Homo sapiens: one gene and its partners. The protein of the gene in region 2 purifies or fractionates together with the protein of the main gene of each other region. This does not show direct contact. Each region holds a gene or a part of one and is shown on either strand. Other genes may lie near its edges.

Evidence for each region.
Region 1: the proteins of SLC9A3 (region 2) and ABCA2 purify together in Homo sapiens (affinity purification with mass spectrometry; one large-scale study listed by BioGRID and IntAct). This does not show direct contact.
Region 3: the proteins of SLC9A3 (region 2) and PTPRU purify together in Homo sapiens (affinity purification with mass spectrometry; one large-scale study listed by BioGRID and IntAct). This does not show direct contact.
Region 4: the proteins of SLC9A3 (region 2) and ESYT3 purify together in Homo sapiens (affinity purification with mass spectrometry; one large-scale study listed by BioGRID and IntAct). This does not show direct contact.
Region 5: the proteins of SLC9A3 (region 2) and RPAP1 purify together in Homo sapiens (affinity purification with mass spectrometry; one large-scale study listed by BioGRID and IntAct). This does not show direct contact.
Region 6: the proteins of SLC9A3 (region 2) and TMEM131L purify together in Homo sapiens (affinity purification with mass spectrometry; one large-scale study listed by BioGRID and IntAct). This does not show direct contact.
Region 7: the proteins of SLC9A3 (region 2) and PYGL purify together in Homo sapiens (affinity purification with mass spectrometry; one large-scale study listed by BioGRID and IntAct). This does not show direct contact.

The regions. Positions count from the first base shown.
Region 1 is NC_000009.12:137,006,596-137,009,580, forward strand, and holds the end of ABCA2 (ATP-binding cassette sub-family A member 2), read right to left. Parts: coding exon 2,946-2,985; intron 2,868-2,945; coding exon 2,775-2,867; intron 2,459-2,774; coding exon 2,356-2,458; intron 2,274-2,355; coding exon 2,136-2,273; intron 2,028-2,135; coding exon 1,821-2,027; intron 1,370-1,820; coding exon 1,334-1,369; 3' UTR 639-1,333; downstream 1-638. UniProt on the Homo sapiens protein: Probable lipid transporter that modulates cholesterol sequestration in the late endosome/lysosome by regulating the intracellular sphingolipid metabolism, in turn participates in cholesterol homeostasis.
Region 2 is NC_000005.10:478,758-482,990, reverse strand, and holds part of SLC9A3 (sodium/hydrogen exchanger 3 isoform 1 precursor), read left to right. Parts: intron 1-240; coding exon 241-443; intron 444-833; coding exon 834-923; intron 924-1,355; coding exon 1,356-1,426; intron 1,427-2,098; exon of another isoform or gene 2,099-2,629; intron 2,630-2,774; exon of another isoform or gene 2,775-3,025; coding exon 3,026-3,155; exon of another isoform or gene 3,156-3,209; intron 3,210-4,233. UniProt on the Homo sapiens protein: Plasma membrane Na(+)/H(+) antiporter. Exchanges intracellular H(+) ions for extracellular Na(+) in 1:1 stoichiometry, playing a key role in salt and fluid absorption and pH homeostasis.
Region 3 is NC_000001.11:29,242,761-29,246,993, reverse strand, and holds part of PTPRU (receptor-type tyrosine-protein phosphatase U isoform 1 precursor), read right to left. Parts: intron 1-4,233.
Region 4 is NC_000003.12:138,437,036-138,441,268, reverse strand, and holds part of ESYT3 (extended synaptotagmin-3), read right to left. Parts: intron 1-4,233. UniProt on the Homo sapiens protein: Binds glycerophospholipids in a barrel-like domain and may play a role in cellular lipid transport. Tethers the endoplasmic reticulum to the cell membrane and promotes the formation of appositions between the endoplasmic reticulum and the cell membrane.
Region 5 is NC_000015.10:41,523,650-41,527,882, forward strand, and holds part of RPAP1 (RNA polymerase II-associated protein 1), read right to left. Parts: coding exon 4,211-4,233; intron 3,957-4,210; coding exon 3,774-3,956; intron 3,653-3,773; coding exon 3,518-3,652; intron 3,420-3,517; coding exon 3,249-3,419; intron 1,500-3,248; coding exon 1,342-1,499; intron 606-1,341; coding exon 447-605; intron 324-446; coding exon 122-323; intron 1-121. UniProt on the Homo sapiens protein: Forms an interface between the RNA polymerase II enzyme and chaperone/scaffolding protein, suggesting that it is required to connect RNA polymerase II to regulators of protein complex formation.
Region 6 is NC_000004.12:153,472,569-153,476,801, reverse strand, and holds part of TMEM131L (transmembrane protein 131-like isoform 1 precursor), read right to left. Parts: intron 2,958-4,233; coding exon 2,914-2,957; intron 1-2,913.
Region 7 is NC_000014.9:50,912,751-50,916,983, forward strand, and holds part of PYGL (glycogen phosphorylase, liver form), read right to left. Parts: coding exon 4,212-4,233; intron 3,985-4,211; coding exon 3,892-3,984; intron 3,222-3,891; coding exon 3,075-3,221; intron 2,750-3,074; coding exon 2,586-2,749; intron 2,066-2,585; coding exon 1,951-2,065; intron 381-1,950; coding exon 279-380; intron 1-278. UniProt on the Homo sapiens protein: Allosteric enzyme that catalyzes the rate-limiting step in glycogen catabolism, the phosphorolytic cleavage of glycogen to produce glucose-1-phosphate, and plays a central role in maintaining cellular and organismal glucose homeostasis.

The DNA of each region.
Region 1 (2,985 bases), on a different chromosome or scaffold from region 2:
CTGTTGTCCCCCATGTGGCACCAGCCCTCAGTGAGTCCACCCTCTACCCTCCTGAGGAGCCTTGAAACGGCCTAAGGCAAGAGTCTGAACTTGGCCCAGATCACGGGGCGTGAGCTCTGGGGGCCATTCATGCCCCTCCCCCATCTCCTGCCCACAGTGTGCCAGGCTCCACCGCTGATGAGCCTCAAAGCTTCCAGGTCCTGCCTCCCTGGGGCCTTGGCCTGTGCCCTGCCCTCTGGCTGGGATGCCCTTCCCTTAAGGAATCTTCACAGACTTCGGTCTCCTCCTGGAGGTCGCCTCTTCCTGGAAGCCCTCGCTGTCCCTTCCATGACACGGAGACAGCCTAGCCCAGGCTGCTGCAGGCCCCACGTGGGCAGCAAGGGGTGAAGGAGGCTTAGAGAGGGCAGGTGGACGGGAAGATGAAGGCTAAGGGGAAGGGGGCCGGGAGCAACCCCTGAGGGTGGGATGAGGGGGACAGTGAACCATGGTGAACCACCCTGCCTCAGTTTCCCTCCTCCAGACCGACCCAGCCACCCCCTGCCAGCACCTGTGCCTGAGGGGCAGGGCCTTCTGGAGCGCTAACCCACCTGATGCGCCCATCCTCCCCACCCTTCCCAACCCACACACGCAGACCCGCAGACATTTTGTTTATTTATTTAAAACAAACATCTGTGCGCTATGTACAGGCCCGGCTCCCAGGGAGGTGGGCGGGCAGGGGGCCAAGCTGGGTGGGAGAGCGATGGCAGCTGGGGGTTGGGGGGGGTCTGGCCCCTTGCCTGGCCAGCAGGGTCAGCTTCTCCATTCCTGCCACCTGCCAGCTGGCCCAAGCTGATGGCTTCCCGCAGGACAGCCACCTCCCTGCAGGAGAGCAGGGCCAGAGGAGCCTCTTCTCAAAGCAAAATAAATACGGGACTGACCCAGCTCCGCCCACAGCCCGCTCTCGGCATCAGCCTTCATCGTAAGAGAGAAAAGCTGGTTCCGAGGCCGGGCAGGAGAAAGGCCAGCAGTGCCTGGTCCAGCCGGCGTCGCCTTGGGCGGTGAGCAGTGCCAGGCAGGGGCGAGGGGCCGGGCAGACCCCGAGGCTTTAAGGCAAAGCAGGGCAAGGGTGTACGCAGCCCGGGCCGGGTCAGCCTTTGGCACAATTAGGGGCGGCAACCGCAGTGACCACAGGGCATGGCCGAGTACAGGGGCTGGAGGACCAGAAGCCCCTTGGTCCTGAACCTCCACTCCAGGCCCTGGCAGGCACTGGGGGACTTCTGTCCCCATTGTTGAGTCCCTGGCCCAGCTCTGGGTGGTCAGTGGAGCGTGTCCTCCCTGGCCCAGCTCTGGGTGGTCAGCAGAGCGTGTCCGTGTTGAAGGACAGCTGGGCCTGTGCACAGGGGAGGTCAGGCTTATGGGGCATCCTGTGCCACCCCCTGCTGGGGCTGAGGACACTTGTGCTGGCCCGCCCCGGCCCTCCTGCAGGCTGGGCCTGGACGCAGGGTCTCCCCACGAGCTCCCTCTGTGTCTGGGCTCTCCCGGGCCTCCGTCTGCCGAGTCTGGGGGCCACTGAGTCTACATCGGTCCCCTGTTCCCCGGCTCTGGTCCCCTCTGCCCCACCCTTGCTCTGTGCCCCTCAAAGACTCTAGCAAGTCTGGACCATGCAGTTACGTCTCTCCAGGCCTATCTGCAAGTGTCCCTCGCCCACTCTGCCCCCTTGACCTCTGGACAGCAAGCATCCTGGGGCCAGTTCTCCCCCGACCCCACCCGCGGCTGGAGCCACCAGGCAGCCTGGGTCCAGTGGGCAGAGCCCTGGACAGCCATGAGAGCAGCCTGCTCACCCGCTCCTCCTCGAAGCTGATGAGGCCCTCGTCCTCCGTGTCCAGGTCCTCGGGCTCGTCTGCCACAAGTGCCCGGAGCTCCGTGGGGGCAGACCGGGGCCGGAGCAGGCTGAGCAAGCAGCCGAGAGGGGACTGCAGTGCGGATGGCGGCTCCGTCTCCTGCTGCTCCAGGTTGTCACTCTGCTTCTTGGCAAAGTTCACGAACACCTGGTGGGTGGCGCAGGCGTGTGGGGAGGGGGCTGGTCTGGGGTGAGGAGGGGCAGGGCGGGTGAGGGGAGGGGCAGGTGTGGTGCGCAGTGCCCTTGGGGCGCTCACATTGTCCAGTGTGGTCTGGCTGACCGAGTAGTCCTCGATGCCCAGCACGCCAGACACCTGCTCCATCTTGCTGAACACCTGGGCCAGCGAGATGTGCTCCGACTTGAGCTGGTACTGCACCTTTGTGTGGTGCCGCTCCTGCAGGGGGGGAGGTCAGAGGCCTGGCAGCGCCCCCCCACCCCGTAGCGCCCCCTCCACAACCCTGCCCGGGACGGCGCACCTTGAGCATGGCTTCCGGGAAGTTGCGGTTGAAGAACCGCACCACGTCCTTCACACTCTGGCTGCTCTTGGTCCGCACCGTGATCATGTAGCCATCTCCAAACCTGGTGGGACAGGCCGGTGGCCCGGAGCCCTGCGCCGCCCAGCCAGAGCCCCAGCCCCCCAGCCTCCCAGCCCTACAGCCCCCACAGGCACCCCAGGAAGCCCCATAGCCTCCCACAGCCCCCCAACCCCACAGCCCCCACAGCCCTCCAGGCTCCTCCCCTGGCCCCACTGCCCCAGTCCCCCCAGCCCCAGTGCCCCCAGCCCCCCTGGCCCCACAGCCCTCACAGCCCTGCAGCCACCCCCACTCCTGGCCCCGCTGCCTGGCCGCCCCCCCCGGGCCCGCCCCAGCCCACCCCTGGCCCTGCCCCGGCTCACCGGTTCTTCAGGTGCTGGATGCTGCCCAGGCACCGCAGGCGACCGTTCACCATGATGGCCAGCCGCGTGCACAGCGCCTCGCACTCCTCCATGCTGTGGGACATGCACAGGCTGGCACCGGAAGGGGTGCTGTGGGGTGGGGGCACAAAGAGGGGGTGGGGGCGCCCTCACCTGTGTGATGTCAGCACCACTGAACGCCCTGTCTTGATGA
Region 2 (4,233 bases):
CGCCCAGCCCCATCCCCCAGCACCCGTGTGTGTGATGCACGGAGCGTGGGGGGGAGACGCCAGGCCGCGTGTGGCTCCGGGTGGATGGTGACGAGGGACGTGGCGTGGGGACGCCGTATCTAGGGTGCCGCTGTTCTTCGTCAGCACATGCTTGGCCGCCAAGACGCTGTCCCGGAGGGGCTGGGGTCCCGCGGCTGGGAGGGCGGCCGGGGAGCTGAGTGCCCGCCCCATCATCCGCAGGTGTGGTCCTGCAGACCTGGCTTCTGAACCGCTACCGCATGGTGCAGCTGGAGCCCATTGACCAGGTGGTCCTGTCCTACGGGGGCCTGCGCGGGGCCGTGGCCTTTGCCCTGGTGGTGCTTCTGGATGGAGACAAGGTCAAGGAGAAGAACCTGTTCGTCAGCACCACCATCATCGTAGTGTTCTTCACCGTCATCTTCCAGGTGAGGCCCAGCCCAGCCAGCCCTGGGGTCTCGGCCCCGCCCGCGAGGGGAGCCTGGGCCCGCACTTCAGGACAAGCATTTCCAGGCTCCAGACCCTAATTGGGTTTCATAATTTTAGTAACTAGGAGCCGTTTTGTAGGTTTTCACGTGGCCCCACTGGGGAGGAAGCATAATTGTCCTAAAAATGTTCTTCCCGGGCCTTCGCTGGTGGATGAGGCCCCGGGTGCTGCTTCCTCCTCTGCAAAGCAGGGGCGCGGGTTGCTGGGTGCCCGGAGAGCAGGGAGGGCGCCTGTGGGCCCCGGGGCAGGTGGCTCTGTGTGGTGCACCTGGCCGGGCCAGCGGGATGTGGGGGGCTGCCTGGCACCAGGGTCACGAGACCCTGTCCTCCAGGGCCTGACCATCAAGCCTCTGGTGCAGTGGCTGAAGGTGAAGAGGAGCGAGCACCGGGAACCTCGGCTCAACGAGAAGCTGCACGGGCGCGTAAGTGCGGGGCTGGGGGGCGGGGGGGGGGCACTGCGTGTTCCTCGGGGCTGGGCTGAGAGGGGAGAGGAGGCTGCGTTGGTCTGGGGCTTGGGGGGTGGCGGAGGGCACCGTGTGTTCCTTGGGGCTGGGCCAGGAGGGGAGAGGAGGCCGCCATACGTGCGGGGCTGGGGGGCGGGGGGGGGCACTGCGTGTTCCTCGGGGCTGGGCTGAGAGGGGAGAGGAGGCTGCGTTGGTCTGGGGCTTGGGGGGTGGCGGAGGGCACCGTGTGTTCCTTGGGGCTGGGCCAGGAGGGGAGAGGAGGCTGCGTCCAGGCCAGGGGCGTGGTGAGGGGGGCTGGTGGGTTCCTCGGGGCTGGGCCAGGAGTGGAGGGGCACCTCATGTTCCCCGGTTGGCCGCCCCGAGACGCTCATGTCTTTCTTCCCTTGAAAGGCTTTCGACCACATCCTCTCGGCCATCGAGGACATATCCGGACAGATCGGGCACAATTATCTCAGAGACAAGTAAGTGGCTGGGACGGCCCCGGCGGTGTCGCACAGCCCGGCTTCTGGAAACATCCTCCACTCGGAAGAACCAGAAGCCACATGCATAACAACTGTTTGAGTCCAGGCTTGGTCAGGGCTCCGGTGCCCCATGAGGCCAGGTGCCAGGTGTGCCCCGAGACACGCAGGTGCTGCGGAAAGGAGTTGGCGGCAGCAGTTGGGGCCACCGAGTGAGGGGACAGGAGCTGAATTCTCTGTGCTCCTTCCAGGGAATAGAGATGCCCTCTCATGTGGCCCAATTAATTCCAAATTGTTATGTAGGAATTGAAAATAAGGCAAATAGATTATTTCCTCCACGTCATAAACAGGGTTAGTATCAGTCAACATTTAAAATGATTTTGTCTGGCAGGGCTCAAGCCTGTAATCCCAGCACTTTGGGAGACTGAGGTGGTCAGCTCACTTGAGGTCAGGAGTTTGAGACCAGCCTAGCCAACATGGTGAAACCCCGTCTCTACTAAAAATACAAACATTAGCCAGGGGTGGTGGCGTGGGCCTGTAATCCCAGCTACTCAGGAGGCTAAGGCACAAGAATCGCTTGAACCCGGGAGGTGGAGGCTGCGGTGAGCCGAGATTGCGCCATTACATTCCAGCCTGGTGACAGAGCGAGACTTCGTCCCAAAATAAAAAAAAGAGTTTGTCCATTAAGGTGAAATCACCTATGTTTTATTATAAAAAACATGTGACACTTATAATAAACCCAGTAAGGAGCACATACAATTTGCCCTGGGTTCCCATTTTCTGAGCGATCTGTGTTTGCTTGGGGTGGAGGCACCGGGAGGTGTGGCCACGTGGCTTCATAAAGCTCAGCTGCGGTTCTCCGTGGCCACAGTGACTCTGCTCCGGGTACCCAGTCCCCGACTCCTTGGCCTCCCAGGGGCCATCCCGGGGGTCTCGGAAGGCACAGCCTCGGTTAGCTTTGACTTCTTGGTGTGGCTGAAACTCAGCCTGTACAGGAGAGCTGCCATTGCTGCCGCGGGGCCTGCCCAGGTGTGAGCACACAAGCTCACCCGGGCCCACCCTGTGCCCTGGAGGGCGGCTCTGGCGGCTGCACCCATGTCCAAGTGACAGGCATCACCTCCTTGTGCCCCAGAGTTTCCTCTAAGTCCGGCCAGGCCACCGTCCCTTCTGATCTGGATAACCAGCGAATACTCTAATTCCGTTAGGCTAAAAAAAACCTCACTCTGGTCAGCTTGGCTCCCACAAGTCTAAGGGCTCAGGGTGTCTGTCCGCCCCTGCCCTTCCTCCTGTGCACCTGAAGGTGCCCCCCATGTGGCCAAAGCCCCCTTGCCTGACCAGGCCTGACACCCACCGTGTCCTGAGCCACCCTCTGGAGGAGGCGGCATGCAGTTTCATATGCGTCTAACGGCCTCCATCCAACAGGACAGGCGGGAGAACGGCGGACGGCCTGGGCGTGTGGCAGGGGCTGCTTCCCTCATTTTAAACGCGCCTACAGGGTCACTATAGCAAACAAAATTCAGGAGAGAAGGGGCCGGGCCACGCGTCCGGCGGGCTCTAGGGCGCCTGTCACCTGAGGCTCACACCCAAGGTCTGTCCCTACAGGTGGTCCCACTTCGACAGGAAGTTCCTCAGCAGGGTCCTCATGAGACGGTCGGCCCAGAAGTCTCGAGACCGGATCCTGAATGTCTTCCACGAGCTGAACCTGAAGGATGCCATCAGCTACGTGGCTGAGGTAGCAGAGCCGCTTGCTCTGCCGGGTCGGGGCTGCAGCAGGCTCTGGCACTGGCTGTGGGTGCCATGGGGCAGTGAGGAGAGGCCCCTGCACCCGCGTCCCAAGGCCAGGCCCACCCCAGCAGTTCACGGGAGGCTGATGGGCCTTCTGATGCCCTGGGAATCCCAGGGGCTCTCGTGGGGTAAACTGAGTCACAGAGTCCTGGTGACTGTGGTGCTGGTGGGGGTGAGCGCTGAGGTCAGGTCCTAGGACCCCGAGCTCCCTTGCTTTCCCCAGGGATGGGAGCAGACGGTAAGCAGGCAGGCTGTTACGGGACCTGGTCCCAATACAGCCCTGCCTGCCCCAGCACACGCAGGTGCCCACAGGTGCACACGCACAGGCAGAGGGGCAGCAGCAGGGCCGTCTCCCGCTGTGGGCCGGCCATGGCTCTGAGGCTGCTCCAGCATCTCCCAGTCCACTATGAGCAGGCCTCTCAGCGTCTGCAGAGCCCCTGACTGCTCCAGAGACCAGAGGCCAGGCGCCCCACCCAGCCCCGAGGCCACTGCCGCCCTGGCTCCCGCACCTGCCCACTATGGCAGGTGGGCCTCAGCCTCCCCGGCCTGCCCTGACCTCCCCAGGGGCGCCCTGGCTGCAGGAAGTGTGCAAGGCAGGGCCTGGGGGCACAGCTGCAGGGATTCCGCAGCTCCTCCCTAAGGACAGAGCCCTCCCTAGCGAGCTTTGGTGCCCTCATCCAGCAGCCGGTCAGGGTGGGTGCTCTCGCCGGAGAGAAAGACCTGTCCTGCCAAACCCTGCAGACCCTCACACAGAGGGCCAGTGGGGGCCTGGAAACTCCATTCATTCAGACAGAATGATTCTGCCTCCACTGACGTGCATTCACCCCAGATGTGCCACCCGTGACTGGGGCCATGCCAAGTGGCAAGGCACCTCCTGGCAGAGGGCACGGGGGCCTGGGGCTGTCAGGAGGGCCAGCCAGTGCAGATCAGGAAGGAGGGCTCCTGGACCAGGCTCCACACAAACCCCCAAACCACAGGCCCGGCAAGCGAGAGAAAGCTCAGATACTCTGGCCCTAGGAGGCCTG
Region 3 (4,233 bases), on a different chromosome or scaffold from region 2:
TGAGGAACAGAGTATGTGCAGACTCGAGGCATGGGTAGGAAGTGGCACAAAATGGAGTACAATTAAGATGCTGTGTGGAGCTGGGCGCAGTAGCTCATGCCCGTAATCCCAGCACTTTGAGAGGCCGAGGCAGGTGGATCATTTGAGGTCAGAGGTTTGAGACCAGCCTGGCCAACATGGTGAAACCTCGTCTCCAGTAAAAATACAAAAATTAGCTGGGTTTGGTGGCACATGCCTGTAATCCCAGCTACTCAGGAGGCGGAGGCAGGAGAATCACTTGAACCCAGGGGGCGGAGGTGGCAGTGAGCCCAGACCGCTCCATTGCACTCCAGCCTGGCCAACAGAGTGAGATTCCATCTTAAAAAAAAAAAAATAGATGCTGTGTGGAACCAGTGGATTCAACGCAAGGGCTCTGGGTCCCGCAATCCGGTAGAGTGCACACAACCCAACAGTGAACAGGTTCGTTGCAGGGTAGAGGCCCTGGGCAGTAATCCTGTGCAGTGCACGAATGCAATGTCAGATACTGTGCAGTGGTGCTGCCTTTGCAAACCTAAGCCAGTCCTGAAGCCCAAGAAAGTGGTCCCAAGCTGTACTATAGATATAGACTCCCTGAGTCATGTGCAACGTGGGGCAGTGAGGACACTCAATGCAAAGATGTTGTTCACGTAGGGCTGACAACAAAAACCTGGAAAAGGACGCCAGCCTACAGATACCATGGTGGTAGGAGCGTGAAAGGCCAGGACACCATAGGGGCAGCGTTTCAGCAGCAGTGGTGCAGTGCAAGGGCTGGGCCATGAGGCACATATCCAGTGCAGCAAAGCAGTGCACATGCACAGAAGTGCTATATGGGGCAAAGTGCACTGTTGGTACAATGCAACTGTGGAATGCAGAGGGGCCATGCCCAGAAACTCAGGAAAAGTTCACAGTCCTGATGCAATACTGACGTCCATGCAATAGTGCAGTGCAGTACAGAGATGCTGTGTGATGCCAAGATGCAATGTTGTGGTAGCATGCCATCTGTTGGCACGGTGCAGTGCTGCAATGCGAGGAGCTATGCCCAAACCCCAAAAGAGTCCATGTGCCCAATGCAATGTAGACTGCCTGGTGAGGCAATGGGGTGCAGAATATAAATGCTCTATGACACAAACATGCAATGTGGCCACAGAAAACCATGTGTTGATCTCAGACAGTGGTGCAGTGTGAGCAGCTCCGCCCAGAAACCCAGGAGAATTCACCTTCCCAATGCAACACTGACATCCAGCAGAGTGACACAGTATACAAGAGAGCAGCAAAGACACACACATGGCAGGACCATGGCAGGATCATGGCAGGATGGAGGCACGGTCCAATGGGACAATGCAGAGGCAGAGCATGCAGAAACTCAGGAGAACGCACACCCTCAATGCAATGCAGCAATCCCAGTGAAGTAGAGGGCTGAGACACAGGGCTGTGCAAGGAGGCTGGACCCAGGAATCCCAGACAGTGCACATCCAGAGCAGTCCAGAGCCTGGCACGCTGCAACAGTGTTGCTGGGAGGGTCATGATGCCTCCCTGTGATGCACTGGAGGAGAGGGGAGCTCAGATCCCTGGAAAACTCTCTACCTACAGCTCTGCCCGGCCACGCTGGCTCACCCCACAAGTTGGGGGCCGAAATCTCATCTGGCTTGTCTCCCTCCCTCCAACATCTTCCACCCCAGTGACTCTCCAAGGGCAAAGGCTGAAGCCACTGCCACCCACAGGATAGGCCATCTAGAATCGAGCACATTGTCCAGGTATTATAACTGAGCAGAATCCCAGCATGCTGGCAGGAAAACAATGAATTCAAATTCTGCTGGTAAAGCTCTCAGACAATTAAAGTACAGCCCCTGGCCCCCAGCCCAGGGCAGGACAGAGGAGAGATAGAGAGAAAGACCTATTATTGGATAAGGCCCTGGGACAGGGTGAGCAGGAAGTAGGATGAACAAGAGGTTAGGATGTCAGAGAAGAGCCAGACTCAATCAACCTGGCTAGGCACTCCCCAACCACCACCCCCGTCCCCACCACTATTACTCCCTCCCAGGCCTGGACTTCATCAGAAACCAAGAACAAACTTTTCTGGGCACACAGGATGACCGCACGCATGCAAATACACACATCATAACAGTGATCACTTACACAGTGCTTACTATGTGCAGGACCTGTTCTAACCTACATAATCATAACCATAAAACATATCCTCATGACAAACGCATGCAGTGTGTCCTATTATTATCCCCATTCCACAAATGAGAACTCTAAGGGCCCAGAGAGGTCAGTAACTTACCAAAGTATCACACAGCTAGAAGTGGTGGGCTTAGGATTAGAACCCAGATGGTCTGGGCCCTGAACCCATGCTCTTAACCACCACACGCTAGACAAACACATATTGACAGGCATGCCCAGCCACAAGTCCACATGCACGCTCCTGTAAACACACATACATACACATTCTAAGCAATGTATTTCCCACTCTCAGCTGAGACTCACCTGTCCTATCCACTAGGTTTCTGATAGCTCCCAGTTGTCACCTCTTATCTCCACCTCTTATCTTATCACCCACATCTCCTTGTTCTATCATCCACCTGTCCCCCAACCCTCAGTTGTTCCCCCAATACCGCCTGTCCCTTCACTGTCAGCTGTCCCATCCCCCAGGTATATCTTTCCCACCAGCTATCTTCTATCCGCCAGTGGTCCCCCAGGCCTCAGCTGTCACCCACCACAGTGGACATCTGACAGTGTGCTGCGGTTTTCCGTCTCCTTTTTCCACTAGTCTGGGAGCCCCCGGGGGCTGAGCTGTCACCCCACCCCTAGCTTTAATCTTGCCCTGTCAAATATCCTCAGCATCTCCCCTTCCTAACAGCCCCATCTCAATCTTTCTCCCCAGCTTCTGCCCTCAAACTCCCAAGCCTCAGCGGCCCTCCAAGCCCCCTTTCTCCTTGTCCCTTCTGAGTCATCACAAGGTCTTGTGGTTTGCATCTTGGGAATCTGCCCAAGACCTCCTGCGTCATCTGGAAGCAGCATCTTCTGAGCTGTCCCCCTCAGGGGTCCTCCCACAGTCATTCTGCAGGAAATGGCAGCCCCCAACCCAGAGCCAGAGGAGGAGGCATAGCCAGCCCACCCATGACTGTGCTGCAGAACCCCAGCTCCTGCATTCACCCCTCCAAGCCTTCCCTGTGCACCCAGAGGCATCGAGATGCAGCCACTTAGTGGGCATCTCCCACGTATAGGCCCTGGGGACCACAGATGACAAAGACACAGCTCAGCCCCTGGGGGCTCCCAGCCTAGTGGAAAAAGGAGATGGAAAACCGCAGCACATTGTCAGACGTCCACTATGGGAGAAATTTCACCAACTGCACCGGGAGAGGGCTGGGAAGGCTTCGCTGCATCAGTGACAATGGAGCTGAACTGTGAAGGCTGAACAAGTAGGTAGATCCCCCACCCCCACCACGAGGTGAGAAGTAGGGAGGGGCACAGTGTGTGCAAAGGTAGAGAGGTGTGAACTGGCATGGCAGGCTCCTGGATCAGCAATTTGCCTGGTGATTTGGAGCAGACAGCGGATAGGCAGGAGTGGGATCAGGGAAGAAAGGCATCATGTGAAGCTGCTTCAGAAAGAAAGGGCTGGTCATGCAGGGCCTCATGTGCTATGCTAGGGTTTGGGTTTTGTCCCCTGAGTTCTGGGGAGCCTTCAGCTTGGGACAAAGGAGTGGCAGCATCCTATGTCTGCCTTAGAAGCTTATTCCAGCCACAGGGTGGTGGAAGCATTAGAAACCAAAAGCCTGGGCCGGGCCCGGGGGCTCATGCCTCTAATCCCAGTACTTTGGGAGGCCGAGTCAGGCAGGTCATGAGGTCAGGAGATGGAGACCATCCTGGCTAACACAGTGAAACCCCGTCTTTATTAAAAATACAAAAAATTAGCCGAGCGTGGTGGCACGCGCCTGTAGTCCCAGCTACTTGGGAGGCTGAGGCTGAAGAATTGCTTGAACCCAGGAGGCAGAGGTTGCAGTGAGCCAAGATGGTGCCCCTGCACTCCAGCCTGGGTGACAGAGTGAGACTCCATCTCAAAAAAAAAAAAAGAAACCGAGAGCGTGATGGCAGGCAGAGTAGAGGCCAAGAAGGCTACCAGGCTACTGCAATAGTCCAGGCAAGATCTAATAAGGCTGCAGAGAAGGGGCCTGGATTGAACAAAACCTTTTGTCAAGAGCCACTGAGTCATGG
Region 4 (4,233 bases), on a different chromosome or scaffold from region 2:
ATTCAGCCCCTTGTAAATGAAGCAGTGAGCAGTCTCATGTGAGCGCAGGTATTATACATTGCTGTCCCAGAATCTGCTCACCCCAAGATGCAATAATGAGCTCAACTGACCTAACCTGTGAAAGACTGTGGGCCGAGTCCCCAACTCCCTACCACAGCCAGCAATACCACAGTGCCTCTTCCTCCAAGAAGGCTTCCTGGGCCACTTCCAGCCAAGGATAGAGCCCCTCACCCATGCTTTCTCAGAGCCTCAGACTTGGAGCCACCTCAGAGAACTGATCATGCTCTATCAGAAGAGGCTGCCCTTGCAGGTCTGAATCTCCATCTAGCTCATGGGTTCCTCAAGGGCAGGGGCCATGTGTACTCATGCTGCCCCGCCTGCAGCTCTGTGCCTGACACACTGCAAGTTCTCGATAAATGCTTGCTGAGTGAGTATAGGAATGAACACATGTATGCCTAAGATCCCTCTGTTGGGCTTGGAGGAAAGAGGGCCCATACTCTGTCACTCATATTGCTCAATCCTGGCCCAGGACATGATAAGTCCATGAACCATCATTAAGACATGGGGCAGAAACCCCAAAGGCATGACTAAAAATTTATCTGCCTCTTCCTTCCCGAGGACAGGCCTGACTCCAAGCCATTTGAATAACTTCACAGGGCTGCAGGGACCTCAAGGGTAAGAAGTCTCCCTAATTCCAAGCAGCACCCAACCAGTCCTGATGTTTAAAATCAGGTTCCACGGCCCTGGCTCCAAGCATCAGGCTTTGTGATCTAATCTGAGAGTGCCCAGGCTAGCTCAGAGCTGTCACTGCATTTACTTCCTCTAATTAACTGAAGTATCTCAGGACAGACCCTGAGAGCCTGGGTCCTGGAACGACTGCTGCTCCAACCACAGAAAGAATGTCAAGCTCTCAGCACTAGGTAAGCAAAGCACTCAGCCCTTGGCTGTCTGCCTGAGTGGCTGGCAGGGAGGCTTGGAGGGAGCAATCCCAGGGACCACTGCTCTGCGCCTCAGAATGCCCATCGCTTTGTGTGAACGGCTCACCTTTTTCCCCTGGTGCTTGCTTCTGCCGGCAGCCCCAGTGCGCACCCAGTTAGATGGGGACAGGCATGAAAGGCAGCGAGTGGGGTCCTGTGGGGTATGTGTCACCAGAGAAAAGCAGGCTCGGGACTGGTTAATGATGGCAGACCCTACAGCTATGAAGACTCTATAGAACATCTCCTAAAATGTCATGATTTTCAGAGAAATCAGAGGCCCAGAGAGGACAAGGGGCTTCCCAAGATCCCTCCATGAATGACTCCAATGACTTCCACTACTTCACATCACGACCACCTCACCAGCAGACACACACGAGTTAACTGCCCCTCACAAAGCTGCCAACTGATGTAACTGATGGCTACCAGCTGAAAGGAGAGCCAGCCTGGCTAGAAACCACAGATAGACAAAATGCCACGTTTTCTCACAGCTCTTTCTCTTCTCTACACTGCCTCAGGCTATTTTCCTACTACCGGCTCTCATTCCCCCAACCTGGAGCAATGTGAGGATTTTGAACTTCCCTCCTCACAGGGGCCCAGTCATGGCAGGGGCAAATCAATATCTGATAAGCAACCCAATCATCCAGTTGAAGCACTGATCAATGGCTGAATGAGTAACTGGAAATTCACGGGTCAGTGAAGGGCTGATCTGTGCACAAATCCAGGAGTGAAGGCTGCAGAGCTCCACGCAGGGGCCCCTACCAAGGGAGGTGGGCAGGGAAGCAAAGCAGCAAAGGTTACCCCAAGAAGGGTCTTAGGAGCCCAGAGCACGAAGGATGGGCTCTGAAGATCAGAAGGCAGCTCTAGCGCGGGCAGCACAGCCGGGACTCCGAGAACCCACAGGAGCAGGCTCCAGGAAAAGCCAGGGTGCAGGGGGTTCCACAGAAGTGCTCTGCGCGTCCCTTCCACTCGCTCCACCCCTTGACAGTCATCCAGATGCTGGAAAGACGAGCTTACCACTGGGACACTTGGGCATTCATTTCATATTAGGAAAAGGTAGTTAGGAAGCCCGGGAAACAGAGGAACATAAAGGGACAGCCCCCACTGGGCATTCGCTTGTGTCTGGCTCTGTGCAAGCAGCTTTTCAAACAGTCGACTCACCACGACCATGTGTGGCAACAAAGCTTTTGTGGCTTGCCGAGGCCTACAATTAAATGAGTAATATCAAGGGCTCCGTGCTTGTCACTGTGCTATACACAGTCCCTACCCGACAAGGACAGCTGAGGCGGCTCTTAATTCCTTCAAAAGTACACATAAACACTGTGTGAGAGGAGCATCCGCATGTAAACATGCAGCCTCTTGAACCCTCTGTTCAAGGGTGAGCTGCGGGGGCCACCCTGCCTTCTTCCCCATGTCGTCAGGCCACATTCACAAGACAAAGGGGACCCACAGGTTCTTCCTTCAAGGCTTCTAGTAAGGAGAATTCTTCCTTCCAGCTATATCTCCCATGGCTGGGGACCTGGAGGAGAAGCAGGATTGTCTGAAGTTTGACTAGAAATCAGACATCAGGGCCAAAATGACTCTGAAAGACCATCCAATACAACCTCCTTTTACAGGTGGGGAAACAGGTTCAGTCAGGGAAAGCAAATTTCTATGATCACCTGGAGGTAGCATCTTGGAGCAAAATGTTGAGAAGGAGTCTAAGACCAGGCAGGAAAGTCGTGCATGACTGAGGACTGGCTGACGATGGCTGCCTTGGATGGCAGTGGGGAAGGATGGCATCCCCGCCTCAGCTCAGCCAGGCCTTGGCCTCCACTCCTTCACAGGGAGTTGGTGCAAATTAGAAAAAGGTGCCCCATCTAAGCAGCATACAGCTTGACAAGCAGCAGGTGGCCGGATATCCATCCCTCCCCACTGGGGGCTAGAGTACAGGGCCAACTCACACGACATGCAATGCAGGTCTGAGTGTGGTGCCCTTGAGCTGCTCAACTTTTCTTCAGTCCCCCAACTACTGATTTGCCATCTGTTAACTTACAGAAATATTTCTTGATACCAAAGGAGGTCATAAGCCATCATCCTCTCTTTCACGCAGAGAAATCAGTTCTCCAGAGGGAAGGCATGCTAAAAGGTCAGCATGTGATGATGAAGAGATCCATTCATCCATGCCCAAAATCTTGTGCAAGGGGCCGTGCTGCCCCCACCACGCCCAGAGCCCTGTCTCTCTTTGCCTTCACAGTTTGTGTTCCTAAAGAGGCAGAGAGAAGAATATTCAACCAGGTAGACTCCAGGTTTTCCATATCATCACTGGGCGTGGAAACCTTCACGAGGCGGGTGAAAAGCCCACACCTGCATCTGTTTGTATGCACTTCACAGGTGTTCATACAGGCAACCAACCTCCCCAGACCTGTTTCTCATCCTGGAATCCCAATCGCAATAATGGTCAACAGCTCCCTAAACCAGAAAGCACCCTGAAGACCCCTGGATCCCCCTGCACCCCTACTCTAGAGGCCACCACGCATCTAAAGTCCCACTCCCACGCATCTCCCACTCTCCTCCCTCATTACTACCATCTTGGCTGAAATCACCTTCCCAACTGGCCTGTCTCCTCCAGCCTTCCTCGTCCCACCATGCTGCTTTCTGAAGGGCCTTTCAGAAGCATCCAAGGCTCCTTCCAGCCTTCAGAACAAGGCCAGCCTCCATCAAGTCTGCCTCAACTTGACCCTGTCACACATCAACCCCTACCACACACTTCAGCCAGGCCCAGCACACAGCGCCCCCTCATGCAGTGGCTATGTCACACCTCCATGCTGTGCTCACCACCTCCCTCGGCCAGAATGCCCTGTGCCGCACCAGTGGCCCAGTCCAACAGGTTATCCAGGCCCTGGTCCTCCAACCTGGCCAGACAAGCCAGCCAGGCGAGTCTGCAGAATGCAGGCTGAAGCCAGCCTTTCCCAGGTCCTTGTCAAGGAGAAAGGGGGCTGTGATTCGGGGACAATATGATATGGAAACCTGGTAGGGTGTCCTTCATACCAGGCCTTCTACCTGACTAGACCCTGTTCCGACTCCTGGCTCCAATTCTCCTCAATGGCAATGACCTGTTATGCATCTGTCCCCCACCCGAGACTGCCTTCTTGGTAGGACAGAGAGCATCACCTTCCTCTGAGTGTCCCTCTACCCAGCTGGGTCAAGCCTGGGATATGGGTTGTGGGGTGAAAACCTAGGAGGTGCCTTCTTGAGTTCAGGCTGAGCTCCCTGTTGG
Region 5 (4,233 bases), on a different chromosome or scaffold from region 2:
AGGGAAGATAGTAAATGGGGAAGTAGGAGTGGAGAGATGGACACAGAGAGGGAGCAACGGGTGGAATGTAGCTGAAGGCAGGGTGCGGGGGCCTGGTGGACAGCCGGCAGGAGGCACTCACTTGCTGGCTCCAGGCCTGGTAGTAGGCTCCCAGGAACAACAGGCAGGCAACGGGCACTGGGCCCACGGCTCTCCACATCTCAGGTCTGGACAGCAACTTCAAGGTCTGCCTTAGACACGGCTCAACAAGAGGCTGGAGCCCAGACACCTGTGTCCAAGTGACTAAGGAAGGGGTGGCCGAGAGGCTGGCCTCAGCAGAATCACTACAAAAGTGCCAAAGGGTGCCACAGTGAGGATCTGGCTGCCTCACGCCCCTTTACACTCCAGCCACCCCAGCCCTGTGGAGGAGCCCTCCACCTGTCCTGTGGGTCCTGGCTATAAACTACCTGATGGTTTCAGCAGGGGTACTGCCGGCTGCCAGGGTTAGCTGGGTGAGGAGAGTGAGCAGTGAGGCTATCCGCTGCATGGACAGGGGTTGAGGTGGGTGGGTGCTGAGCTCCCGCGGCACCACCTGCAAGGCCCGCATCAGCACTGGGTAGAGCTCCCTAGGGAAGAACAGGGACTGATTTTCACTGTATGAAAGCAAGTGGAGACATGAGACACAGGTCATGGCCCTGACCCAGGGATCTGCAGTTTGATAAAGGAGGATGAGGAGGAAGAGTGGGGCACTCTTGGAAGGCTCAGCCCTAAAGAATGGAAAGGATGTTGTCCTTCAAGGCTGCCCCCAACAGGGAATTTAAATGTGATTTCACAGATACCAATGCTTTTTTTTTTTTTTTTTTGAGACATTCTCTGTTGCCCAGGCTGGAGTGCAGTGGAGTGATGGAGTGATCTCGGCTCACTGCAACCTCTGCCTCCCAGGTTAAACCGGTTCTCCTGCCTCAGCCTGCCGAGTAGTTGGGATTACAGGTGTGTGCCACCACGCCTGGCTAATTTTTGTATTTTTAATAGAGACGGGGTTTCACCATATTGGCCAGGATGGTCTCGAACTCCTGACTTCGTGATACGCCTACCTTGGCATCCCAAAGTGCTGGGATTACAGGCATGAGCCACAGTGCCCGGCTAATGATTTTGAGCATAGAATACGGTTAAGCCAGGTTTATCCCCCTCTTCCCTGGCTGGGCCTGACTCCTAAGCCTTTTCACATCTGGCAGAAGCCCTCCCACTCATTCTTATCCTTCCTCCAAGCTTGGGACCTTGAGCAAGGCTGAGGTGTTTGATTTGGCCAGAAGAGCAGAACTGAAGGTGTCTAGGGGGAGCCTACCCCCTGCCTCTCCTCACCTGTAAAGGTAACCGCCCTGGCCATAGGAGGCAGCCACAGCCCACAGACGGAGGGCCTCGGTGCTCAGCATCTCAGCTTCCTCTGGGGGCAAGGCCAGTTCTTGGGGAGCCTCAGCTATGATGCGGCACAGGCGGCTCCGGAGATCAAAGCTGCTCAACTGGAAATGGGCACAGTCTGAGGATCAGGGTCAGCTGTGAGTCTCAAGTCCAGCTACTCTCAGCTGGACAGAGAGTGGCTTAACTCAACCCTGACCCAGGCCCCTCTGGTGCCACAAAGTCATACCTCATCCACCCTGCCCTTCCTTCTTATTATTTATTTAAAATTTCAATTTTATTATTTTACTTTTTATTATTTATTATTATTTTGAGATGGAGTCTTGCTCTGTTGCCCTGGCTGGAGTGCAGTGGAGTGATCTTGGCTCACCACAACTTCTGTCTCCCAGGTTCAAGAGACTCTCCTGCCTCAGCCTCCCAAGTAGCTGGGACTACAGGCATGCGCCACCATGCCCGACTAATTTTTGTATTTTTAGTAGAGACGGGGTTTCATTATGTTGGCCAGGCTGGTGTCGAACTGCTGACCTCGTGATTCACCCACCTCGGCCTTCCAAAACGTTGGGATTACAGGTGTGAGCCACCGCACCCAGCCCCTATTATTTTTTTATTTTTATTATTATTATTTTTTTAGATGGAGTCTCGCTCTGTCGCCCAGGCTGGAGTGCAGTGGCGCAATCTCGGCTCACTGCAATCTCTGCCCCTCCAGGTTTAAGCAATTCTCTGCCTCAGCCTCTGGAGTAGCCGGGATTACAGGCGCATGCCACCACGCCTGGCTAATTTTTTGTATTTTTAGTAGAGACAGGGTTTCACCATCTTGGTCAGGCTGGTCTTGAACTCCTGACCTCATGATCCACCTGCCTTGGCCTCCCAAAGTGCTGGGATTACAGGTGTGAGCCACCGCGCCCGGCCCTATTATTTGTTTTTAGATGGAATCTTGCTCTGCCACCCAGGCTGGAATGCAGTGGTGTGATCTTGGCTCACTCCACCCTCCATCTCCCGGGTTCAAGCAATTCTCCTGCCTCAGCCTCCCAAGTAGCTGGGACTACAGGCGCACACTATTATACCTGGCTAATTTTTGTAGTTTTAGTAGAGGTGGGGTTTTGCCATATTGGCCAGGCTGGTCTCGAACTCCTGACCTCAAGTGATCCACCACCTCGGTCTCCCAAAGTGTTGTGATTACAGGCGTGAGCCACTGCACCTGGCCAGTAGTAGTATTTTTGAGACGGGGTCTCGCCCTGTTGCCTAGGCTGTAGTGCAGTGATTGGTGCAACCAGCCCACTGCAGCCTCCACCTCCCAGCTCAAGTGATCCTTCTACCTCAGCCTACCGAGTAGCTGAGACTACAGTCATGTGCTACCACATCTAGCTAATTTTTTGTTTTTGTTTTTTGTAGAGACAGAGTCTTGCTATGTTGTCCAGGCTGGCCCCTGAACTCTTGGCCCCAAGTGATCCTCCTGCCTTGGCCTCCCAAAGTGCTGGGATTACAGGCCTGAGCCACTACACCCAGCCCTCCCTCTTTATAGCAAGGCTTGCTGGGCACCTTCTCTAGGGCTACTTGGCTATAGATGATGAATGCCTATGTGCATGAAGCCCTTCTGATCTGGGTCTAGGGAACAGGGAGACCTCCTATTACATCATGAGACCACAGTATACCTATATGATGCACCAGGCTCCAGTAAACAGGCTCCAGTAAACAGGTTCATGCCTGGTGATTTCTGTTGCATTTCTAAGCAACTGGATCAGAGAGGAAGAAGATGGCAAGAGCTGGCCACCCAGAGTTCAGGAGCCATGTTTAGCTCCCAACCCAACCCTGTCCCATGCATTCCCCCATCCCTTGCCCTGTGTCCTGCTCACCAGCCGGGCAGCAATATTCCTCCCAGCTGAGGCCAGGACACGAAGTAGTTTCATGGCAGTAGCACAGGGTACTTTGTATAGACTAGGGGTAGGCCCTGCCCCCACAGGAGACCAACTGGTGGGCAAGAACTCTCGAACTATAGTCTCTATCAGCCGAGGGCACTCCAGGACCTATGGGAGACAGGAGGTAAAAGGGAGGAAGGGAGGCTGTGGGTCAAGACAAGGCCCAGCTAGGCTTTTTGCCCATTCCCTGCTCCCTTTTTTCTCACCCTTGTGGCTGATTCCAGGGAATGCCGGGCCAGGCGGATGAGCACAGCCAGGATGTCAAGGACCACCGCAGGTCCTGGGTATGTCACCTCCAGCACGTAGCGCAGCCGAGGCAGCAGGCTGGTAGCCAGGAGCCCCTGGGAGTTGGAGAGAGAAACCCACTGACAAATGCAGCTGGACCCTGGGCATTGATGGCCCCTCTTTCCAGCATGTGCTTGTCCCCTGGGCCATGGGATGGGAAAGAAGCTGTCCCTTTACCTTGATGACATCATGTCGGGCCAGGTCAGGTGGAGGCCGGCTTTCTTCTTCAGGGCTTTTCCTTTTTGCTTTTCCTGCTGGGCATTCTTCATCCTCGTCCTCATCCTCCTTGTCCTCCTGGCTGGGCATCAGAGGGAACGTCAAAGCTCCATGGTACCAAGAGAAGGTGCTGTCGAGGAGCTCCTGCCAGAGGAACGGGAGTTGGGGGGCAATGCTGAAGGGGCCAGGAAATGGATCCAGGAGTAGAGAGGATGCTCCCCAATAAAAACCATAAAGGCAAGCCTCCTGGGCTTTAGGGACTTTAGGAGATGAGGGAGACGCCTGCCATCCCATTCTACATCTTGCCCGCAAAGCCTTAGCAATGGGGCCATGCCCAGGAACAGGAATATGGACCCTGGCACCTCCCAGCCCAAGCCCCATTCCTATCCCTGTGGTACCTCATCTCCAGGAGCCACCAGCA
Region 6 (4,233 bases), on a different chromosome or scaffold from region 2:
AACTTCATGGCTGGATATTTTATGTTGTTCCTTTTCCTCCATGAACTCATTTCTATTCCACGTCACCCAAGGAATTTTTGGTTTTGTTTTGTTTTTGTTTTTGTTTTTTTTGAGATGGAATCTGTCTCCCAGGCTGGAGTGCAGTGGTGCGATCTCAGCTCACTGCAAGCTCCGCCTCCCGGGTTCATGCCATTCTCCTGCCTCAGCCTCCCGAGTAGCTGGGACTACAGGCGCCCACCACCACACCTGGCTAATTTTTTGTGTATTTAGTAGAGAGGGGGTTTCACTGTGTTATCCAGGATGGTCTTGATCACCTGACCTCGTGATCCGCCTGCCTCAGCTTCCCAAAGTGCTGTGATTACAGGCGTCAGCCACTGCGCCTGGCCCTACCCAAGGAATTTTAACTGAATACATAGTTATGTTCAAAGCCTTCTGCTACAAGACTATAAATATAAATTGAAATTTCAGGTTTTTAAAACATTTTTCCTATGACCATAGGTCTAAATATTAATTTTTTTCCTTCTGAATTAAGTTATCAATTCAGGCCAGGCGTGGTGGCTCATGCCTGTAATACCAGCACTCTGAGAGGCTGAGGCCGGCGGATAACCTGAGGTTAGGAGTTCAAGACCAGCCTGGCCAACATGGTGAAACCTCATCTCTACTAAAAATACAAAAATTAGCCGGGCGTGATTGTGTGCACCTGCCATCCCAGCTACTCAGGAAGCTGAGGCAGGAGAATCACTTGAACCCAGGAGGGGGAGGTTGCAGTAGGCCGAGATCACACCACTGCACTCCAGCCTGGGCAACAGAGTGAGACACTGTTTCCAAAAACAAAAAAAGTTATCAATACAATTTGTATTAGTACAGTCGAATCCCTGAGAGATTGGTTCCAGGACGTCTCAAGAATATCAAATTCTGAAGATGCTCAAGTCCCTGATATAAAATGGTATATAGTATTTGCATATAACCTATGCACATCCTCCTGTATACTTTAAATCATCTCTAGGTTACTAATAATACCTAATACAATGTGAATGCTATGTAAATAGTTTTTATACTGTATTAAGGAATAATGACAAGAAAAAGTCTGTACATATTCAGTACAGATACTTTTTTTTTCTGTATTTTCGATCCACAGTTTGTTGAATCCACGAATGCAGAAGTCACAGATACAGAGGGCCGACTGCATACAATTGATCAAACCAACAAGTTTTACAAATTTTGATAGGTAATTAAACACAGAAAGTAAAATCTTATTGAAAATGCATCCTTTAATGAGATGAACAGAGCTATTTTCCCCCCAACTGGTTGATGTGAACATTACCCACTACTAGAATGAGACAGGTTTTTTATCAACTTAATCCTTTCCTTTTTAACTTTTTTAAATGTAAGTACTGAAAAAGCTTGTAAGTACTGAAACAGCTTTATTACAGCACTATCCGTATATTCTCTAAACTACCTCAGTGTTTCATCTAAAAATCACACAGTGAGCCATCATTAAAAGTAACTTGAATGATCTATCAGTTGTCAAATTCATTGGGTCCTCCTTCAATTTTACTAAAAGGAACGATCTGAAAACCACCAAAGTTACTAAAGAATTTGTCATCCAATCAGAGTGGATCACTTTTTCCTAACAAACACCAATATTTCAAATTGCCTCTTTGCCCAAGATGAAGCCAACAGCAGGATTGGGGCTGGGTGGAAGATACAGCTTTCTTTTGTAACGTGGAGAAAAGAGATTGTGAAAGCAGAGGTGGAAAATGGTAACTTACAACTCAGATCAGCTTTAGGAGATACCTACACCCTGGGGGTCTGGAAGCGTAGTCCTTGCAAGTTATCCTCCCACTTATACACCACTTAGAGTGTCTTCGTGTACCTCTAAGGGACCCAGTTTGACAAGTGACCAAGACTGCCCCATGGTATTCTCTTAAAAATGGAATTCACAGGACCGAGTGCGGTGGCTCATGTCTGTAATCCCAGCACTATGGGAGGCGAAGTCGGGCGGATCACTTGAGGTCAGGAGTTTGAGACCAGCCTGGCTAGCATGGAGAAACCCTGTCTCTACTAAAAATACAAAAATTAGCCAGGCATGTTGACACACGCCTGTAATCCCAGCTACTTGAGAGGCTGAGGCAGGAGAATTGCTTGAACCCAGGAGGCGGAGGTTGCAGTGAACCAGGATCATACCACTGTATTCCAGTCCCCTGGTTAAAATTCTTTAACAATTCACACCACACTTAAAAACAAAACTCAAATTCCTTACTGCGACTTCTAAAGGACTACATACCTTATCTCACCATCCTACAAACCACACTGGCCTTCTCCAAGTTCCTGGATTGCCGGCAGGGCTTCCAGCCTTAGGGCCTTTGCACCTCCATTCCCTCTGACCAAAGCACTGTTCCCGCTGCTGTGTGGCTGCTCCTGTTTCCTCCAGGCTTCAGCTGGAATGTCACCTCCCAAAAGGAGCCCATCCACCTCATTATTCTCTACTACAGGAAACTAATTCTTGATAGCTCTTGTCATAAGCATAATTATTTTACTTACAGTAAAGTCTTACTTGCCCACTACACGAAACAGAGGTCTTGTTTGTGTTTCATGTTCAGCACCCAGCACGGTGCCTGGCACTCAATAGATGTTTATAAACAAGAGGGAGGGCACAAGCACATCATGGAAAAAGTGAAATTGGTGAGTGGCGAAGGAGGGGCTATTTCTAACAGCTTTCTAAACAACCTTATTTTAAAACAAAATCGTATTAATGTATTAGAAGGTATAGATACGACAAATGCCAAAGAGAAAGGTGTATTACAGATACTACTAAATACATAAACATGGACATATACTGAGACTTCAGAGAGCACCCAAAGTGGGCAGGGACATTCAGCATGCAGGTTTCCACCCCCATTTTTTCCTTACCTCTGTTCTTGAGAAGGCTCCTCCAGACCCTCTTCAGAATCACCCTATTGAAAAAGAACATGTGTTAACCGTTGTTTCTGTTTGTTCGTTTGTTTTTGAGACAGAGTCTCGCTCTGTCACCCAGGCTGGAGTACAATGGCAGGGTCTCGGCTCACTGCAACCTCCGCCTCCTGGGTTCAAGCAATTCTCCTGCCTCAGCCTCCCAAGTAGCTGGGACTATAGGCACATGCCACCACACCTGGCTAATTTTTGTATTTTTAGTAGAAACAGGGTTTCACTGTGTTGGCCAGGCTGTTCTCAAACTCCTGACCTTGTGATCCACCCGCCTCGGCCTCCCAAAGTGCTGGGATTACAGGCGTGAGCCACTGTGCCCGGCCACCCCTGGGCAAATCTTATAGTCATCTTGCACTGCTCTCCTCCCTTCACCTCCTACCAGAAAGACCTACCCACTCACGGGAAACCCAGTTCCTACCTGTCCTTTCTTCCAACACAGCAGCCCACACCATCAGTAGCCCCGGCTGTATTAGAAGACAAACGCAGCTTTCTTCTCTGCCTGCAGACTGCTGCCTGCAACCATCCGGTGCACCATCGCACTCTGTGCAGCAAAGACCAGTCTCCTCATATCATTCACTCCTTATCACCCTTATCACACAGTAAGGACCCAGCACTCAATGTCATCACTTCAGTCCCTGCTCAAGAACCTACTATGGCTCCCTCCAACTGGTCAGATGCACACCAAGCTCTTCAACAGCATACAGCACTGTCCCACACAGGCCCTGACACACCCAGCCCTACCCCTACAACCACATTGCGGCAAGCACCTGGGCTCCAATTTAAAATGTCCGAGGGAAAATGCTGAACTTAACTGTCTACCAGGCGAGGCTCTGGGCTAGGCCCCAGGCACACACTTGCTGCTGCAGATCTCTAAGGCCTCCCTTGTCCCTAAGCCTTAGCTGACCTCTCCAAAGCAGGGTGCCTCTTCTCTCAGTTCCTATATTTCAGCACTTGACTGTGGTCCCAGGGTATTACCAGTCTGATCTTGCCAACCACAAAGGGCAGGGACAAAAGCATGTAATTCCCCCACTGCCTCTTGGGAAGTGCCTCAGGGCCTTTGCACTGGCTGTTCTCTCTCACCACTTTCAAAGATTGGCTCAAATATTGCCCTTTCAGAGTGGTACACTTTGACCTCTTAAAACCGCAACTCACATCACCACCCCACATTGCCACCACACAACATGTATGCCCTTCGAACAGACTAAATAAATTTATTCTCTGTCTTGTTTACTGTCTATCTCTCTGCTTCCATTTAGACTGCAAGCA
Region 7 (4,233 bases), on a different chromosome or scaffold from region 2:
CGAGACCAGCCTAGCCAACATAGTGTAACCCTGTCTCTACTAAAAATACAAAAATTAGCCGGGCGTGGTGGCGGGCGCCTGTCATCCCAGCTGCTTGGGAGGCTGAGGCGGGATAATCGCTTGAACCTGGGAGGCGGAGGTTGCAGTGAGCCGAGATCGTGCCACTGCACTCCAGCCTGGGCAACAGAGCGAGACTCTGTCTCAAAAAATAAACAAAAACTACAGGATAAACTCTCACAGTGAGTGCCCAGGAGGGGACCCACACCTGGAAGGCTCACCTGCTTCACCTTGGCGAGTTCCCGGAGGAAGACATCATCACCCAGGAAGCTGTGGAGCTTCGTCAGCTGGCTCAGGTCTTTCACATAGTCTTCTCCAATTTTCTTTCAATTCAAAGGAAAAGATGACTTCAATTTGGGGATGGTAATCAAGTCCAAATGGGCAGTTTCTGTCAGTATTTCTCTCTGTCACCTACCACAGTGTAGTTCACGTATCACACAGAACATGGGATAGTTTGACTCAAAGAAGAGTCTATAAAGTCTATGTGAGAAGAACACTTTTGCTAGTATCTTAAATGTAGTTTCAGCAGTTTTTAAAAATTATTTTTATTTATTTATTTTTATTTATTTATTCATTTTTTTTGAGATGGAGTCTCGCTCTGTCGCCCAGGCTGGAGTACAGTGGCACGATCTCGGCTCACTGCAAGCTCCGCCTCCTGGGTTCATGCCATTCTCCTGCCTCAGCCTCCCCAGTAGCTGGGGCTACAGGCGCCTGCCACCACGCCTGGCTAATTTTTTTTTGTATTTTTAGTAGAGACGGGGTTTCACTGTGTTAGCCAGAATGGTCTCGATCTCCTGACCTTGTGATCTGCCCTCCTCGGCCTCCCAAAGTGCTGGGATTACACGTGTGAGCCACTGCACCCGGCCTAAAAATTATTTTTATTTTTATTTAATTTTTTTGGCGACAGGATCTCACCCTGTCACCCAGGCTGTAAAGCAATGTCGTGATCATAGCTCACTGCAGCCTTGACCTCCTGGGCTCAAGCAATCCTCTTGCCTCAGCCTCTGAGTAGCTAGGATTACAGGTGCATGCCACAACACCTGGCTAATCTTTTTATTTTTGTAGAGACGGGTGGTGGTGGTGGGGGTGGGTCTCATGTTGCCCAGGCTAGTTTCAAACTCCTGGCCTCAAGTGAGTCTCCTGCCTAGGCTTCTCAAAGCACTGGATTACATGCATGAGCCATCACACCCGGCCAGCTTCACTGGTATTAAAGTGTTAAAAACAGGAAATCTACTTATAAGAGTGACCAGGAACCCAGGTTCTGTTAGTTATTTATATGAGCTTTATTATCCTCTTTTACTAGAGAAAACCATCTTCTATGTGAGTGTCCTATGAATACTGTTAGCTGCAACTAGCTACATAATTTGCAGGACCTTTTGTTCAAAAATTAAGAATTTCAAGATGACGGCTATGTGTGATGGCTCATGCCTGTATTCCCAGCACTTTGGGAGGCCAAGGAGGAGCAGATAACCTGAGGTCAGGAGTTCAAGATCAGCCTGGCCAACATGGTAAAACCCTGTCTCTACTAAAAATACAAAAATTAGCTGGGCATTGTGATGTGTGCCTGTAATCCCTGCTACTCGGGAGGCTGAGGCAGGAGAATTGCTTGAACCCAGGAGGTGGAGGTTGCAGTCAGCAGAGATTGCACCACTGTACTCCAGCCTGGGTGATAGAGTGAAACTCTGTCTCAATAATAATAATAATAATAATAATAAATAATTTCAAGATGACTACAGCAGAGAATTAAACCCAGCATGGAGTCCTGTGTGACTGCACAAACCACATGCTGAGGAAGCCAGCCCTGCTGCAGACTGGATTTATAAGTTACAAGTATAGTCATATGCCTCTTGCATTCGAGTCAGGCCTCCTTTCCTCTCAGCACTTCCCAGTTACCTCTGCTATGAGCTCTGCAAGTCCTGGGTTGCAGAGTAGGAGCCAGCGCCTTGGAGTGATCCCATTGGTTTTATTCTGAAACTTGTCAGGTTCTAGCTCACTGAAGTCCTTGAATCTGGAGATGGAGGAGACACATCACTGAATTTGGCTGAAACGGCAAAGGGTCCTGCACACTGGACAAAGTTCGGAGTTATATTCAAGAAGCCAAGTGCAGGCTTAGAAAGGTTAAATAAAGGTGGAGGGACAGGCTGACAGTAGCTATGGCTGTCATTTAAATAGAAATTCATTTGCAACTCAAAAGAATTACCAGAAAAATTCCAAATCTAGTCACTTCCATCTGACTTCTTCACACTGACATATATACTACACTTTCAGTAGAATAGTTTTTGGTATTTTGTTTGTTTGTTTGTTTTGGCTCCTATGTCTAGAATTAAGATGGCTCTGAGAGGAAAGCATTCTTTTCTTTCCTTTTCTTTTCTTTTTTTTTTTTAGGCAAGAGTTTTTTGTATAGAAGAAAATACTTTTAAACATTTGAACAAGGCCTTTCCTCATCCCTAAGTGCAACCCTGCATTTAGTAGCATCATTCCATTAATGGATCAGTGTCAGACCCACTGCCAGAGTAATGGAGGCTCACACTTTAGTCTTCACGATGTCTGAGTGGATTTTAGCCACGCCATTCACAGCATGGGAACCGACAATGCAGAGATGGGCCATGTTGATCCTTTTGCTTCCTTCCTCTTCTATCAGAGACATCCTTCTCAGACGGTCCACATCTTTAGGAAACAAGGCCACAATTCTCTAGCCAAAGGAAGAGAAAGCCCTTGCTGGTCACTCAGGTTTAATGCAACATTGGGATAACGCTGTTCATGTCTTAAGCAAAATCTTTGGTGTACTCAATATAAACTTCACTACCACAGGGAGGGGTTGAGTTAGCTCTATGGAGGTGCCATCCCTCCATTTCAGCACTTTCAAAAAGCTGCCTTTGTTGGAGCCCCGTTCGGACTTGAGTACTTTTGCTGTATCAATGATTGAAAGATGTTTGGTAAGAGGGAACACTGTAGCCATCTGTAACACCTTAAGATCTTATGCTCATGAACAGAGAAAATCTCTCAAAATGACTTACATCTAAATGCTTCTGATTTATCTCATAAATGATTTCCAAATGTCGAGGGAGCAGCTTCTCCACCAGGTCCACGGGCCAGCGCTCCAGGGCTTCCGGGAGCACTGTGTGGTTGGTGTAGGCGAAGGTCTTCTGGGTGAGCTCCCATGCCTGGGGGAAAGGAAGGAGTCAGCTGCTTGCCCTGAAGGTGGGCACCCCACTGCACGGGCCAAACCCTTCTTCAACCCTGCCCTGTCTGCAACAGGACCATTCCAAGTGTGCATAGTCAGAGCACTCAATTCCACTAAGTTCCTGAATAGTCCAGATAATAGAAACATGTTCTGGGTGTGAGGGGGAAGCCATTTGTAAAGCTACTGGTGAAACTTAAGACAGCATTCTGATCAATCTATCTACTATCCTTATGTGTCTTTCACTTATTAAATACACAGATTGAGGGATAAAAACGTAAATAGTGCTCTCAGCAAGTACAAAGTATGTAAAATGCTGACTTCTAAAGCTATGGGGACACTCAATTAGCTGTCTTCTGAGGTTAGATAATTTAATTTTTAATCTTTTTCAACACAAAAATGGTAAACACAATATAAGCCTTAATATAGCTATTGATTTGTGTCCCATTAGGAATGTGCTCATTTATTTTATAGTCTTACTCCCTATAAAACTCTAAGGATGGAAAATGTCAGCGTCAGGGAAAATATACCTTTAACTGTTGAAAGTTAGCAACAATAACTTACTTTGAAAAACTAAAAAGGGAGTTTTTGGCAGTCTTTCAACTGCAGCCATTCTGGTTAATTAAAGGAAAAAGAAGCCAAACTATCCAGACCTTGGACCAGGGCAGTTTTTCAATATCCACAAAAATCCTCATCAGCTCAGGGATCGCGAGTGCAGGGTGAGTGTCATTCAGCTGGATGGCCACCTGGGTGGGGAAAGACATCAACATGAAGGCAACGGATGGCTCAGGGTCTGGCTTCTTTGTCCTAACACATCTGGAGAAAGCACTGATATGCCCACCTTCTATGAAAGACTTGATGCACACTATTCCTGCTCAACGTTGTTAGCACTGAGAGAGAGGAATTAATCTGATAGGAAATCCCAGTCAATCCCTCAGTGGACCCTAACTGCATCCACAGACTAAATACTTGCCTGATCCGGGAAGGCATCAAAC